4 linked regions of the Homo sapiens genome follow. The protein of the gene in region 1 purifies or fractionates together with the protein of each later gene. This does not show direct contact. Each region holds a gene or a part of one and is shown on either strand. Other genes may lie near its edges. The genes, in order: RNFT1, HADH, ABHD13 and SQLE.

The links.
Region 2: the proteins of RNFT1 (region 1) and HADH purify together in Homo sapiens (affinity purification with mass spectrometry, with the first as the bait; one large-scale study listed by BioGRID). This does not show direct contact.
Region 3: the proteins of RNFT1 (region 1) and ABHD13 purify together in Homo sapiens (affinity purification with mass spectrometry, with the first as the bait; one large-scale study listed by BioGRID). This does not show direct contact.
Region 4: the proteins of RNFT1 (region 1) and SQLE purify together in Homo sapiens (affinity purification with mass spectrometry, with the first as the bait; one large-scale study listed by BioGRID). This does not show direct contact.

The regions. Positions count from the first base shown.
Region 1 is NC_000017.11:59,951,366-59,955,008, reverse strand, and holds the end of RNFT1 (E3 ubiquitin-protein ligase RNFT1), read left to right. Parts: intron 1-862; coding exon 863-964; intron 965-1,897; coding exon 1,898-2,032; 3' UTR 2,033-2,769; downstream 2,770-3,643. UniProt on the Homo sapiens protein: E3 ubiquitin-protein ligase that acts in the endoplasmic reticulum (ER)-associated degradation (ERAD) pathway, which targets misfolded proteins that accumulate in the endoplasmic reticulum (ER) for ubiquitination and subsequent proteasome-mediated degradation.
Region 2 is NC_000004.12:108,016,864-108,021,005, forward strand, and holds part of HADH (hydroxyacyl-coenzyme A dehydrogenase, mitochondrial isoform 2 precursor), read left to right. Parts: intron 1-2,676; coding exon 2,677-2,803; intron 2,804-4,142. UniProt on the Homo sapiens protein: Mitochondrial fatty acid beta-oxidation enzyme that catalyzes the third step of the beta-oxidation cycle for medium and short-chain 3-hydroxy fatty acyl-CoAs (C4 to C10).
Region 3 is NC_000013.11:108,228,266-108,232,083, forward strand, and holds part of ABHD13 (protein ABHD13), read left to right. Parts: intron 1-933; 5' UTR 934-953; coding exon 954-1,967; 3' UTR 1,968-3,818.
Region 4 is NC_000008.11:125,001,233-125,005,374, forward strand, and holds part of SQLE (squalene monooxygenase), read left to right. Parts: intron 1-1,943; coding exon 1,944-2,196; intron 2,197-4,142. UniProt on the Homo sapiens protein: Catalyzes the stereospecific oxidation of squalene to (S)-2,3-epoxysqualene, and is considered to be a rate-limiting enzyme in steroid biosynthesis.

The sequences.
Region 1 (3,643 bases):
ACATTTTGATTTCTCCAAATTTCACTGAGGGTTATTGACATCACATCTAGTTAATGACTAAGTTCTGAATCTGGTGAGGAGGTTAAAATCTTAGAGACGAGTAACTTGTTATTAGGACATTAGAAGAGAAGAAAATTCAAATAATTGCATTTTTGTTCAGTTAGTTTTGACAGTAGTTATTCTACCAAAGCGACATTTACAGTTGCAGTTTCTCCGTAAAACTTTTTTATGTTTAGCACTAAATGCTTTTTATAATTTCGAATAATTTTTAGACCTAGTGGCAGAAAATTCTTCAGTGGTCCCTAAGTCTTCTTCATATTGCACTCACTTGGAGACCTTTCAAATAATAGATTACTGGGTCACATCCCAATATGTCTGGTCCTAGTGAATTGATATTGTGTGGAACAGAGAAATCTATTTTTAAAGCAAGCTTTCCACATGAGTTACATTCAACCAGCCAACCTCTGGCTGGATTGACTTTATGAACCACTGCTGCAGGTAATAAGCTCAATTTGGCAGTCCTGGGTCAAATAATACATGGCTATAGATTTTATAATAGTTACATTTCAGATTGCTTAGTCTCTTAAGCCAGTTATGTTGAATTTGAAGCACTATCATCCTTTGTAAAGCTAGTAGATCTAACAATCTTTCAAAATCCTATTATGTATTATTTAATGATTTCATTTTGGTGCACTCAAGAGGTGGTTCTGTATATGGCTCAGCTTTGAGATGTTTGTATCCTTTGGGAAGTTTTTCAAATGCCTGGTTCCAGGGAGATTTGAGAAGTACAGCATTACTTATGTAATTTGAGGAACAGGAAAGAAAGAAATTTGTAGATGAACAGAACTTACTATCTTCATAGAGTTATGGAGTGGCTGCCAGCAAGAGACAGTGTTCAGATGTGGATGATATTTGTTCAATATGTCAAGCTGAATTTCAGAAGCCAATTCTTCTCATTTGTCAGGTAATTACATTTTTAAATTTAAAAACCTAAATACAACAGTTCTCTGTGACTTGCAAAAGTCAAATTTATGTTTGCTGTAAGGCAAAAAAAAAAAAATCTAGTGTTTAGTGGAAGGTAGCATTCAGGGTACATACTAGTGGATTGGCTAAGTTTTGTCCCTTATGTTCTGATAATTTTTATGCAGAGGAGCGTATGAAGGGGAAAAAATAATTCAACTGGCAGATTGAATACCAAAGTGATTAAAAAACAGGCTATTTTATAATTGGATACTAGCCATGTAGAACAATACTGACATTTGTTACTGGATTGTGGCCCTTTCCTATACTTTATGGCAGTTACTAGTAACTCAAAGACCTTAAGCAGTTATCATACTTAATCTTAAAGGTGTCACCTAAGGATAGCTTTTATGGTTAAATGGATGGTACAGCCAGAACACTAGTGGCTCTACCAATCATACTGCTCTTTGTCTTCTTGAATGTCTCATACGTTCTCCATTTTCACAATTGTAAAATGAGGGGATTAGTGCTCTTCAAAATCCCTTTCAGGCTGGACACAGTGGCTCACGCCTGTAATCCCAGAACTTTGGGAGGCTGAGGTGGGTGGATCACCTGAGGTCAGGAGTTCAAGACCAGCCTGACCAACATGGTGAAACCCTGTCTCTACTAAAAATAAAAAAACTAGCTGGGCATGGTGGTGGTGGTCACCTGTAATCCCGGCAACTTGGGAGGCTGAGGCAGGAGAATCACTTGAACCAGTCGGGGGCGGAGGTTGCAGTGAGCCGAGATGGTGCCATTGCACTCCGGCCTGGGTGACAGAGCAAGACTTCAGTCTCCATCTCAAAAAAAAAAAAAAAAGAATCCCTTTCATTCCCTACAATGTGATGGATTTAAAATGATTATCAAATATCAAATCTAATTCTTAATTCCATTACAGCATATATTTTGTGAAGAGTGCATGACCTTATGGTTTAACAGAGAGAAAACATGTCCACTCTGCAGAACTGTGATTTCAGACCATATAAACAAATGGAAGGATGGAGCCACTTCATCACACCTTCAAATATATTAAGTTGTATAAACTATCAAGGCCACAAAATACTAATGTCATTTGGTCATAATGACTACTGATAAGGCATCAGAATGGATTTTCAGGGCTACCAGAAAAATGTTTCCAGATGGTTTTAGAATGTAGGACTTATGATCCAATTCACCAAAAGATTAAATGAAACCACCCTGTGTTTTAAAATATATATAATGTTCAACCTAATGTATATGCAACATTTATTCTATTCTAATTATTTGACAGGTAACTGCAGTGTTAAATTGTAAATGTGTTTTCTTTATGTTACCAAAACAGCAATTTGAAATTAGAACTAGTGGTTTTAGAGAACTCAGGTATTCTTTCCTGACATTGTTTTCAGAATAAAGAATATTTTTCATAATATTTTAAGATACATACTATCTAAAAGTAGAATTTTGTTCAGCATTGACTTTTATAATTCCCATCCTAAAAATTCTTAATATTTTCATAAAATTTGTATTTTTAAATGAAAATTCTAAATGTTGTATTTTATCAGTAACATTTTCTAAGTGAAGATTAATTTACTGAGGATGATACATTATAGTATTGTATTATTCTCTGTAGTAAGATTAGTAATAAGTGAAAATAAATGATTTAAATTCATTTTGTCTCTGGACGTCATAAATTCTTCCTGCCATCAGCTTTAATGTTCATGATCATGCTTTTTGTATAGTACCATGGAGTATCTCGAAGTAACTATTAAAATAATTCATGTGGATTATAAACAGCTGGCTTACTTGATGATTTGAATAGTATAGAAAACAAGACAAATGGCCAGGCATGGTGGCTCACACCTGTAATCCCAGCACTTTGGGAGGCAGAGGCAGGAGGACTGCTTGAACCCAGGAGTTCAAGACCAGCCTGGGCAACATCCCATCTCTATTTAAAAGAAAAAAGTTTCAAGACAGATGCCCTAAAATCTTATAAAAAATTGCCCTTATAATTAGTCTTCTCCATAAAAGTTTTGGAATTTTATGCTTGAATCACCATCAATTGGAAGATTGAAGCTCGCACTGAGAGGTGGTCATGAGGTTTTGATAGTGTGGTTTGTTCGCCTCTAGGTATTTGTGCAGGGTGCTAGAAAAGAGAATGAAGCACTTTCTCCCCTTGTTACCTCTAAGGAGGAATCTGAAATCTAAAACATGTCTGAAGGGCTGCTAGTGCTTATATCCAAGTTTAGAGTACATCTATCAGTTTGTAGTCGAGGAAAAGGTGGTAGAAAGAACTTAGGAAGCAGAGGTAGAAAACAGATTTGCTGTACTGATAAGACAAAAGCTAAACTAGCAAATGAATTGTTTAGTTTAGCAAACTGACCAACTGGTTATAGAAGGCACTTCCATGACTGTACAGCCATCCAAATTGACAAACAAACATTAGGAAGCCTGTACCATTTTTTTCTCTCCAGGTAAATACTACCAGGTTGTAAGTACAACTATATTCAATTACAGTATATTTTACTCTGTTATCTACTTTGAGACCCACTACAAATATTATTTAAATGGCTTTGTGGTGATGCTAATAGTTGTATTATTTAGGTATACGGCAGAGGATGGGTGAGAAAAGCAATGTGGGATTACAATTCGGCTGTGAAGGATAGCC
Region 2 (4,142 bases), on another chromosome or scaffold:
GTACCTATTGTACAGAGTTGTTTAGGAAACTCATTTCATTTAGCTCACATTTCCTGAGTGCCTGCTGTGTATCAGGCACTACACTAGGCTCTTTAACCTGAATTGATGCAAAACAGATATGAGGTGTGAAAAGAAGGCATGACCCATAGTCATACCAAAGATGTGACTTTGCTGCTGACCTTCTCCACCTTTCTTGGCACTGTTTGTTTTTGTTTTAGATCACCACCATTATTGAATGCTTGCTACAATTTTTAAGCAGCCGTATTGAGAGGTACTTTACTGACAAATTTTACAGTTCGATCCTATAATGGGAGAAGAAAATATAGTCAAGTGATACATTTCGGGTTGGAAGCCCTGATGAAACAGTTGCATCCTGGAGAGAACATGACTTCTCTAGCAGCAGCCTAAGACACACAAATGAAAAGTATGACCAGACGCACAGGCAGCCAGATCGAAGTCCTGACTTTCCCCTTTAGACAAAGTACAGACTCTTGAATCCTTTGCCATCCCCACCAACCCTCTTGTCTTCTTTATACTAGGGTCTGGGGCCATTGCTAATAATCACTGTGCTTGTGTTGTCGATTTTCTTTTAGAACATTTAAGAGAAAAGTAGTTTTTTTGGTACCTGAGTGTCCGAATGAAAAAAACAAAAGATGGTTCAAGACAAGTGTTTCCAGGAACATGTAAGAGTACTTTTTTTTTTTTTTTGAGACGGAGTCTCGCTCTGTCGCCCAGGCTGGAGTGCAGTGGCATGATCTTAAGCTCACTGAAACCTCTGCCCCCCAGGTTCAAGCAATTCTCCTGCCTCAGCCTCCCTAGTGGCTGGGATTACAGGCATGCGCTACCATGCCCAGCTAATTTTTGTATTTTTAGTAGAGACGGGGCATGTTGGCCAGGCTCGTCTCGAACTCCTGACTTCAAGTGATCCACCTGCCTCGGCCTCCTAAAGTGCTGGTATTACAAGTGTGAGCCACCGTGCCCAGCCCAGAGTACATTTTGTTTGTGGATGAAAAGACTGTCCTATGTGTTTAGTATTCTCTGAAGACAGTGTGAGACTTTTAGGAACAAAGTCAGCCTGACCCTGTTGGGAGAGGCAGAAGCAGAGGTCTGCTGGGGAGAGATCATTTCCTCCTTCTGATAAAATGTGCCAGAGTGCCCTGGACTGGTGATACCTGGAACTGGGCTCTGATGTCACTTTATTTTACCAAATGTGCCCAAGTTTCCCCTTTTTGCAGGTGAATGGCCCTTCAAACATTCTACAAAAAGGGGTATTACGATTGTAATACTAATCTTTAAAATAACACTTTCTTTTCTTAACGGGAGTGTGGAGCCACAGCTGGCACAGCCTTGGGCCCAGGCTGTCCCTGCTCTGTTTTTGTGGTTCCAGGTGCTTGTGGTGCAGGTTGTGTGGTTGAACAGTGCTTGTGTTGGCCACACACATTGTTATTGGAAGAGGATCTTTTTTTCATTACCTTCTGTAATGGGGAATAGTTTATATTATTTTCCCCAATGACCAAAAGCAAGAAACTTTGAAAACTGAAATTTTAAGACCTTAAAACAATGTCATTTTTTTTTTAAAAAGGAAACCCTGGCATTTAAATGGCCTACCTTGGAAGCTGTTGGAGAAGGTGGATGTGCTCATACCTGGAAAGAGAAGGCTCTCCGCTGCCTACCCACACTGGTCTCGCCTTTTACCTCTTTTCCCTCCTTTCCAAATAACTGGTTTCTTCTCCCTTCTCTTCCTCCTCTCCTCCCACCCGCCCCTGATTTGAGCAGATTATAGTATTGCCTGTTAGGTAAGCAGAAACCCCCAAGCCTGGTCAGTAAGGGATCCTTTCCTTTCCTGCCCTGTTACAGTCCATCTTGGTTGGAATCAGCACCAGGCCTGTTTGTATGTTTTTATCCGCAAGGTGGCGCTGCAGGAAAGCCTGGAAGTCAACCTGTTTAAAGCTTTTCCTCTCATGCTTTTGGCACGCCACTTTACTGTGGCCTTAAAGAACTAAATTTGGTTTAAGTCAGTATGGATTTTTTTTAATGAATAAGTTAATGTCTTATATATGCATATGCCTATATCCTCTTTTCCCCATATCTACCCATGTAACCTTAAAATTTTTTTGAACCATGTTGGTGTTCTTGTTTTCATTTTAATTCCCATTCAATTGAAAAATAAAGCTTTTCACTTCAGGGAAAATATCTTAATTCACGTTTATTATCATATGTTTCTGATTGAGGATTTATGTGTTCATTTAGAATTTTGTTGCTTTTAGGTGTCTTTCTTTCATTATTTTTTGATCACTGAGTTTCGTTTGTGACTGGGGTTGGTTAAGTAGCTTGATCAATTAGCCACCTCTTGTTATCTCACATACCTTGGAAGTTAACTAATACAAGTAGGTAGGGGAAATTTTGTTCTGGAAAATCAAGGAAGGATTGGTGAAGGTTAAATACCTCTTCGGAACAGGAAATTCCAATTTTATTTCAAATTTAAAAATTTTTAAAAAGCTGAAGTCACTTGATTTCAGCCTCTTATATGAAGATGTGTCTTCTCCCTCATTCCCCCAATGGGTCAGGACAACAGATGTGGCAGTAAGCAGTCACCTTGTGCATTGCATCCAAGAGTCATGCTGTTTTGAAAGAAGAGATTCACTCTGATACTCCCACTATATTTTCTCTTCACAGACATACAATCTTTGCCAGCAACACTTCCTCCTTGCAGATTACAAGCATAGCTAATGCCACCACCAGACAAGACCGATTCGCTGGCCTCCATTTCTTCAACCCAGTGCCTGTCATGAAACTTGTGGAGGTCAGTGGGTGTCAGCTTGTGTGTGTCTGCCCGCTCTGCCAGCTCTCTCAGTCCTGCTTTTCTGTGTTACACCAGCCCTGCCACCAGTTGCCTAGGATGGGTTTTAACCTGAGGGTAGAAGGTTGTCCCTGAGCCTCATATCTAGGAGGGCTTCTATGCTTTGTTTCTTCACAGCCCTGTGTCTTGCTTAGTGATATCCAGAAAGGCTGTTAACTTTGTGGAATGTCATTTACTTATTTGTGCCAGAGCTGATGGGCAGTGCTGAGAGGCATCAGAATGGGAAGGCAGCACTAGAAACCGTGGGCTGGATGGGACCACACAGAGGGCAGCTACATGTGTTCATATTATCTCGTCGAGGTCAGCTTGCCCATGCTGTAAATGCAGTTCTCATTAGATACACTATACTAGCTTGTCCACAGTTCCTGGGGTTAATTCTGACCCCATGTAATGGTGCCTTAGCGTTGTCCCCAGATGAGGTACATCTCCTGTGCATTGTGATCAGAGCTATTAAAACCAGCTCCCATTGGGTGCGGCGGCTCATGCCTGTAATCCTAGAACTTTTGGAGGTGGAAGTTAGTGGATTGCTTGAGACCCAGGGGTTCAAGAACAGCCTAGGCAACATGGCAAGACCCCATTTCTACAAAAAATAAAAAATCAGCCAGGGGTTTTGGTGCACGCATGTAGTCTCCAGTACTTGGAAGGCTGAAGTGGGAGGATTGATTGAGCCTGGGAGGTTGAGGCTGCAGTGAGCTGTGATTGCACCACTGCACTCCAGCCTGGATGACAGAGCAAGATCCTATATCGAATAAAAAAACCCTAAAAGTAAAAAAATAAAACCAGCTTCTGATAGCCTTGAGCCTCCTGACCATAAACCTGGAAGGTGGAGCGGGGAGGCAGGGAGGGCTTCCCCAGCATCCTGTTTGGAATGCTTGGAGACTCCAATATGTTGGAGTTGGAGTCACAGTAGGCAATTTGCACCTGAAATGGGACAACTTGCCTTTTACAGGGTCCTAATTACAGGGTCTGAGGAGCAGCCGCTATTAAAGTAGCATTTGTTCTGAGGTTGAGGAGTTATTGCCCTGCGAAGTGTGGGGGACGCTGATGCTGCCATGTGGGTGATGTGGGGCCAGGCAAACCTACACACACTGGCTGTGGCCTCTCTGGGAGTGTGTATCGTCTGTTTTCTTCATTATTGCCTTTTCCAACTACCTTTTCCTTCCTTTATCCTCCTCATTCCCTCACCACTACTCAGCATAAGCATTTTTAATAAGTCATAATAATGACCATTTTTTTTAGCATTTTCTCTCAAGTGACAACTTTGACCATCTTGCAATGGGAC
Region 3 (3,818 bases), on another chromosome or scaffold:
TTTACTTTATTTATCTCTGTTTCTCAGAGGATTTCTGTGTATTTGTTTCACACTGAACCCTCAAGTATTTATTGCCTTATCAATACATTTTAGCAATCTATTGACCCCAGGACGTGAAACTTCATTAAAGAGTATATAAAAGATACTGCCGATCTCATGACACTAGCAATATGATATTTATTTTTAATTACATATGAAAGATAAATCATTAATAATTTTCTTAAAACTAATACAATATTAGAATCTAGTGTTTAAGCAAATTATTTAAGTTTAGTATTAAAACTTCGAGGTAGAGGGGGGATACTTTTATTCTTTCTTTCCCTAGTTGTTTTTTTTTGTTTTATTTTGTTTTGCCCAACTCCTTACCCTAGTTTCTTTAGTTTTTGCTACCGTATGTGAAAAAAATTGACAAAGTATATTAGATTGGTCTTGCTATGTTGGAATTTCTGAACTGCCTTTTCAGTACAGTTTGCCCTGGACATACGTAACCTAACAGCAGATGTACCACAATCTCTAGAATCATGCTTGTTTGCCTCCCAGCTCTTCTACATTGAGAAGCAGATGATAGCCAGTCTACTTATGCCCCTGAGCTTCTGTTTTCTCATTAAAAAAAAAAAATGACACTATCGCATCAACTTTTTTTGGGTCAAATCCGTGAGAACACGTATATGAAGAATAAGCACTTGTTAAAAATGAGTTAATTTGAAGAATATTAGTGTTTCCTAAATATGACAGTGGAGGGATATGGTAGAAAGGAAACTGTTGAGAACAGAAAGGACAAGGGAAATTATAGCAGCTACTTTTGTGGATGGACTGTACCTATTACCATATTTAACAATTACATGTGGCCTAGTACCATAGTTTATTATATTGTGGATTTTTAAAAGAATAGATAGACGTTGAATTATTGATATTCTCCCTCTCTCTCTCTAGGATACTTACAGAGAGCTACAATGGAAAAGTCCTGGATGCTGTGGAACTTTGTTGAAAGATGGCTAATAGCCTTGGCTTCATGGTCTTGGGCTCTCTGCCGTATTTCTCTTTTACCTTTAATAGTGACTTTTCATCTGTATGGAGGCATTATCTTACTTTTGTTAATATTCATATCAATAGCAGGTATTCTGTATAAATTCCAGGATGTATTGCTTTATTTTCCAGAACAGCCATCCTCTTCACGTCTTTATGTTCCCATGCCCACTGGCATTCCACATGAAAACATTTTCATCAGAACCAAAGATGGAATACGTCTGAATCTTATTTTGATACGATACACTGGAGACAATTCACCCTATTCCCCAACTATAATTTATTTTCATGGGAATGCAGGCAACATAGGTCACAGGTTGCCAAATGCATTACTTATGTTGGTTAACCTCAAAGTTAACCTTTTGCTGGTTGATTATCGAGGATATGGAAAAAGTGAAGGAGAAGCAAGTGAAGAAGGACTCTACTTAGATTCTGAAGCTGTGTTAGACTACGTGATGACTAGACCTGACCTTGATAAAACAAAAATTTTTCTTTTTGGCCGTTCCTTGGGTGGAGCAGTGGCTATTCATTTGGCTTCTGAAAATTCACATAGGATTTCAGCCATTATGGTGGAGAACACATTTTTAAGCATACCACATATGGCCAGCACTTTATTTTCATTCTTTCCGATGCGTTACCTTCCTTTATGGTGCTACAAAAATAAATTTTTGTCCTACAGAAAAATCTCTCAGTGTAGAATGCCTTCACTTTTCATCTCTGGACTCTCAGATCAATTAATTCCACCAGTAATGATGAAACAACTTTATGAACTCTCCCCATCTCGGACTAAGAGATTAGCCATTTTTCCAGATGGGACTCACAATGACACATGGCAGTGCCAAGGCTATTTCACTGCACTTGAACAGTTCATCAAAGAAGTCGTAAAGAGCCATTCTCCTGAAGAAATGGCAAAAACTTCATCTAATGTAACAATTATATAATGTTTCCCTTTTTGATTATTGCATTGTATTTTAATTTGTGCAGAATGATAAAGAATGTTCCTTTTAGAAGTGTGTTATGTCTGTACCTGTCTGAAGAGTGACATTAAACTTTGAAAGGACTTCACTGCTCCTTTACGATATTCCAAATAGTTTTTTACATTGGAAAAACTAATTCTTGGGATTCTTTCATACATTTTCATCAAAACTTTCAGTGTGATTATGTATTCATATCTTCAGTTTAATATGTCAGTATAATAGATATTGTTCAAAAGTTTCTTGTTGCTAAAGTGGTGTAATCTGTTACACAGATGAATAGCTAGATGTGGAAAGAGATATGTAAACAAGAAACCTTTGGGTATTGTTTCTTAAGTAAATATTGGGACAATCATGGTAAGCAAACTTAGTTCTGTAACTGCATTTTTCACCTTAAAAGTTAAATGAAATGCATGATGGTATTTTATTCCTTGAATTATGCAATGCAACATTTTACATGTAAATAGCACTGGTCATATACTGATGTATATGGTTATCTGGGTTATATCTATTTTTATGTAAACTCTATTTTGTTTTTGGCAAGAAGTGAAATTGAGACTTATGTGCAGGTTGCCATTGAATTTTGCTCTGGTGAATGCTGAGATCCAGCTTTTTCTTACAAATAAATGGGACCCTGTTTTCCAATACAAATGTACCGTGTTTTTGTTAGGTACAGTCTGGATCATGGCATGTAGAAATAGAAATTTAGAATTTTACTGCAGCTTTGATGTGCATATTTGAACTTTTTAACATTTGTAACTTTGGTGGCAAAGAGAATTTTAGCTTCTATCGATTTTGTAAGTCTTCAGCTGAACCACTAATAGCAGTCATAGTGAAGATTAGCACTACTTAGAATTAAATTAGGAAGTCTTTTATCATTGCAGGATTGTACATACTACTTTATAAAAATTCTCACCTTTGATTTTAAATCCCAGTACCTAGTTATATCTAACCTATCAAAGGCAAGATATCATTTATTGGACTTCTTGAAAATAAAAGTTACAAAATCCAACAACAACAACAACAAAACAATGTTCTTGGTTTTAATGTTCCAGTTGCTGTGAAATAGAACTCCTACAATCAAAAGACAGTTTTAGGAAGTCTTATTTATTGATTTTAAAAGTTTTACATGTAGGAGTGTGGGAATGAAGGAATTCTGGAGCTTTTTGACACAAAACCTATTACCACATTTAGCAGTTAAATGGCTATAGGTGGGAAGTAGGATTTAGATGTATAGAAAAGTAAGAAAATCTTACTTAGAAAAAAGCCCCTTGAAACTTGCAGGATTTACTTAATAAAAATACACGCTATGAGTCATAATTGTGCCAAGTTGTTTCATGCAGTCCTCAAAAATTAGATGTAATTGAGCTTTGTGTAATATTATGTCAGCTTTAACATATAATATTTTGAATATTTTAGCTATATTTAGTGGCTTTCTGCAAGCAACTAGAACAGAGAAGTAATGGGTCAATAATCTTGACCTTAATTTAAAACTTTCAATGGAGATAGGGCTAGAAATACTTTTGCCAAATAGCATTCTTATTCACTTTATGCCGGTATTTAGAAAAAATAAATTATAGCAAGTATGATTTCTAAGAATGTTTTTCTATAAATTACTAATTGTAAAAAGTCTTGCTTTTTAAAACAAGTTGGTAATGCATATCATGGAAGGCATATTTTGTATGTATAAATTCACCACAATTAAAGATTATTCTTGTCAGTCCTTGCTATGTAGAATGACTATTCTAAATATTAATGTATTAAAAAGAAAATACAACAAAATGTATATTTAGACACGAGCTTACATGGCATACCTTA
Region 4 (4,142 bases), on another chromosome or scaffold:
GTTTTCATGCTGTGTAGAGAAATTTTGGAGTAGGAAAATTGGGTTACCAGCAATCAATATTGGTTCCATTTTGTGAACGCCCCAGGCTTTCTCTTTATTTTTTTGTGAACCAGGGAGTTGTTAGATTGTGATCTATTGACTACTAAGTTCCCATTAGTGCTTACTCTACTGATCAGGCTCTGCAAGGCCTGTTTTCCTCCAGAGCTCTCCTTTCAGGGTGTGTGTGTGTGTGTGTGTGTGTGTGTGTGTGTGTGTGTATATAAAACAGGAAAAACTTATGAAGAAGCACATTTTTGGTTAAGATGACAAAAGGGGCTTGTCTTGCCCCCTACAGTAATTTAAATATAGTCAGTTCTGGCCATTAAGACATACTAATGGGAAGAGTAGAATATTGAGATCTTCCCATAGTAAAAGGACAGAAAAGTATTTTTCTGAGAGAAATTAAAAAAAAAAAAAGAATAGACAAATTCCCAGTCCACTATAGAGGTAAAAGAATGCTGGGTGGATATTAGAATCACAGAGTAAAGTTCTAAAGGATTTTAGGCTTCGTCTTCCTTTTTGCTTGATTATTTTTTAAAAACCCCTTCAAATGGCATTTAGTCTTATCTTAATCATTAAGGTCAAAGAACTCAAGGAAGGTGGTTCCTTGCAATTCTGTATCTGAAATGTATTCAAATGTGTGAATCCATCTACCAAGAAGAAATACTACAAAATTGAATTGTTCATTTTAAAAAGCCACTGTGCACTGTTGTTCTTAGTGGTCATAAATCTCTCAAAACAAGACTTTGCATCTTTTTATGATCAAAGTTAAAGTTTTGCTGTCAGTTCAGCCAGTGACAGGTTTAATGTTTTTCCTTGTTCCTTTTTTGGGGACCACCTCTTTGACTAGGATCTCTTAGAGTATCAGGATGGGGAAAAAGGAGGGATAAATTAAATATGTGCTTATATGTTAAGGACCAAAATTGTAAACAAGTCAAATCTAAGAGTCGGTATGAGTTATTTCTTCTCTTGTAATTTTGTTTATTTAGATAATCTTCAATTAATAGATTGGTAGGCAGGATTTGACAATCCTTTTGTCATATAAAAGTGATATTAAATTAACATAGATTTTTCAAATGAAAATCCAGAAAGAGAAAATAAAGATGAATAATGAAAATATCTAAGGCCGCACGCAGTGGCTCACGCCTGTAATCCCAGCACTTTGGGAGGCTGAGGCAGGAGGATCACCTGAGGTCGGGAGTTCAAGACCAGCCTGACCAACATGGAGAAGCCCAGTCTCTACTAAAAATACAAAATTAGCCGGGCATGGTTGCACATGCCTATAATCCCAGCCACTCGGGAGGCTGAGGCCAGAGAATTGCTTGAATCCAGGAGGCGGACGTTGCAGTGATCCGAGATTGCGCCATTGCACTCCAGCCTGGGCAACAAGAGTGAAACTCAGTCTCAAACAAACAAACAAAAAAACAAACAAAAAAAAGAAAATGTCTAAAAGGTGCCGAATAGTTTGTAACATGAACTCAAATCAGAAGTTGTAAGTGATTTGCATCTTGTCGATTCCCAGGATATATTTGAAGAATTTAGTTATTAATGATACAGTTTGCCCTATAATAAGTCTTTGAAGCCCCTTATAAACATTTATTATATTCGGCCCAGTGTGGATTTCTAAATATGTCTGTATAACATTTTCCAAATATCATGTTTAGAAAACAATAAATATTTAATTTTATTGGGATAATATGACACACTTTTATTTAACGAATATTTTGATATCATTGATTTTTATATATTATCTAGATTTTAAAATGTAACAATTTGTTTGGTTTGATAATATTTAGTATCTAGCTTTAGCCTAGGATGCAAAAGTCCAGTGTGTCCACATAGCGGTAGCATGATTTGAATCTAACAAATTTGGATACCTAGTTTACCTTTTTTTTTTTAAACAGCGCAGAAAAGGAACCAATATTTCAGAAACAAGCTTAATAGGAACAGCTGCCTGTACATCAACATCTTCTCAGAATGACCCAGAAGTTATCATCGTGGGAGCTGGCGTGCTTGGCTCTGCTTTGGCAGCTGTGCTTTCCAGAGATGGAAGAAAGGTGACAGTCATTGAGAGAGACTTAAAAGAGCCTGACAGAATAGTTGGAGAATTCCTGCAGCCGGGTGGTTATCATGTTCTCAAAGACCTTGGTCTTGGAGGTAGGTTCATATTGATTTTCAGGAGAGTTACGTGGTATGAACAAGCACTCTTCACTTAGACCATCCTATGACCAGTAAGAAGGTATTCCATTTTATTTTCATTTATAAAATTTTCTATACTCATTTACCAACAAATTTGCATGAAAGTGAGAGCAAAGGATAAAATAAGCATTTAATAGTATGATTAGATGTGAATTAGACTTAATGAGATATAATAAAATGGCCAAAAGATTGTAATGGTCAAAATTAAGGACTGGAAAATCCTAGAATGAGGGCATTAAATTTTGTGAAAGGCGAAGGGAACTGTCATTTGTAGAGGGTATGTTGTATACTTGTTACAGTGTTATTACTTAGAATCTTTTATTTAAGCACCATTCATCCATTCAACCAGTGCTTTTTAAGCACTGGCTATTCATTTAGGAAATATTTATGCACTGTCTACTTTGTGTGGGGATGGGGTGGTGGGGTGGGGTGGGGTGGGGAAGGTGGGAGAGACACAAAGAAGCAAGCCCTCCCCTGTCTTTTTTTCCAAGGGCACTAATCCTATCGTGAGAGTCTACCCTCATGACCTAATCACCTTCTAAAGGCTCCATCTCCAAATATCATCACATTGGGGATTAGAGTTTTAGCTTAGGAATTTTGGGAGGACACAGACATCCAGTCAATACCATATTTGAACATTTTATGTCACTAATATATATACTAGAGTCCACTTTTTCACTTGACAGAAACATATTTCCAATACTGTTAACCATTCTTTATCAGTATCTTTTTAAGCCCAAGCATAGTTGTTTTTCAGTTGACTTCATAATGTACTTCACTTTTCAAACTTAGATGAATGTTTAGGTTATTTTCAGTTATCCTTTTTTAGGTAACACTATAGTGAACCTATTCTTGCATGTAACTTTAAAGATTATTAAATATTATGTCTTTAGGATGAATTTCTTACATGGATTTCCAAGAGTAAGATTATTACATCGAAGGATGCTAATTTCTTCATGGTTCTTGATAATTATTGTTATATTTTCTAAAATATAATATTAGTTCATAGTATCACCAGTAGTATATGAATTTATCAGTTTTATCATAATCTCATCAGTGATTTTGATGGTGTCCTGTTGTTTCAATTTTTACTTAATTTTTTTTATCGTTTGAACATTTTTTCTGATTTGTTCACTGTTTCTATATTGCTTTATATGAATCATCCATACATGTTTTTGTCCATTACTATTGGCGTCTTAATATTTTTCCAGTGGTTTTTAATGAGTAAATTTTATTATATATACATGTATTAATCTTTTGTTCTATTTCATATGTCTTTCCCAAAGTATTGTTTTAGTTTTTATTTTTAAAATTAATTTTTTAACTTTCTAATTTTCGGTTGGCACTTTAAAAATGTGATATTTTCTATTGAAAGTTTTTTATTTTTCAACTGCTTTTGCTGCTTTAGATTTAAGAAAGAAGTTTTTACATGATTCTGATGAATTCAGTGTTTTGTTTGCTGCCATTTAAATTATTTGATGTACTAAAAAGTTCTTTGCAGTTTGTCCTGAGTCACTTTTAATGGATAGTATGTAATCATCAACAGTTGGGGGATAACTCTACCCTTTCCATTTGGTTTGGAAAATCTACTTTTTCATATATTCAGTCATTATATATAAATTGGGGTTTTTTTTTGAGTTTCCATACTGGTTTTATTTTATTTTTATTTCTTTTTGGTGACAAATCTACATATTCATACATTGAAAGAAGTGTTAAGAAGGACTAAATGTGTTCCTATGTCTTTATGGCAGAACAGGTTTACTCAGGAGAGGATTATGGTTTATTTCATGTTGCATTTTCTTTCTGAAGTTGAAGTGGAATTACAGACCTGAAATAGTTATGTTGTTATCTTTAAATGATATTACAGATTTGCTAAGACTCTCATTGACTTCCAGAAGCATTCA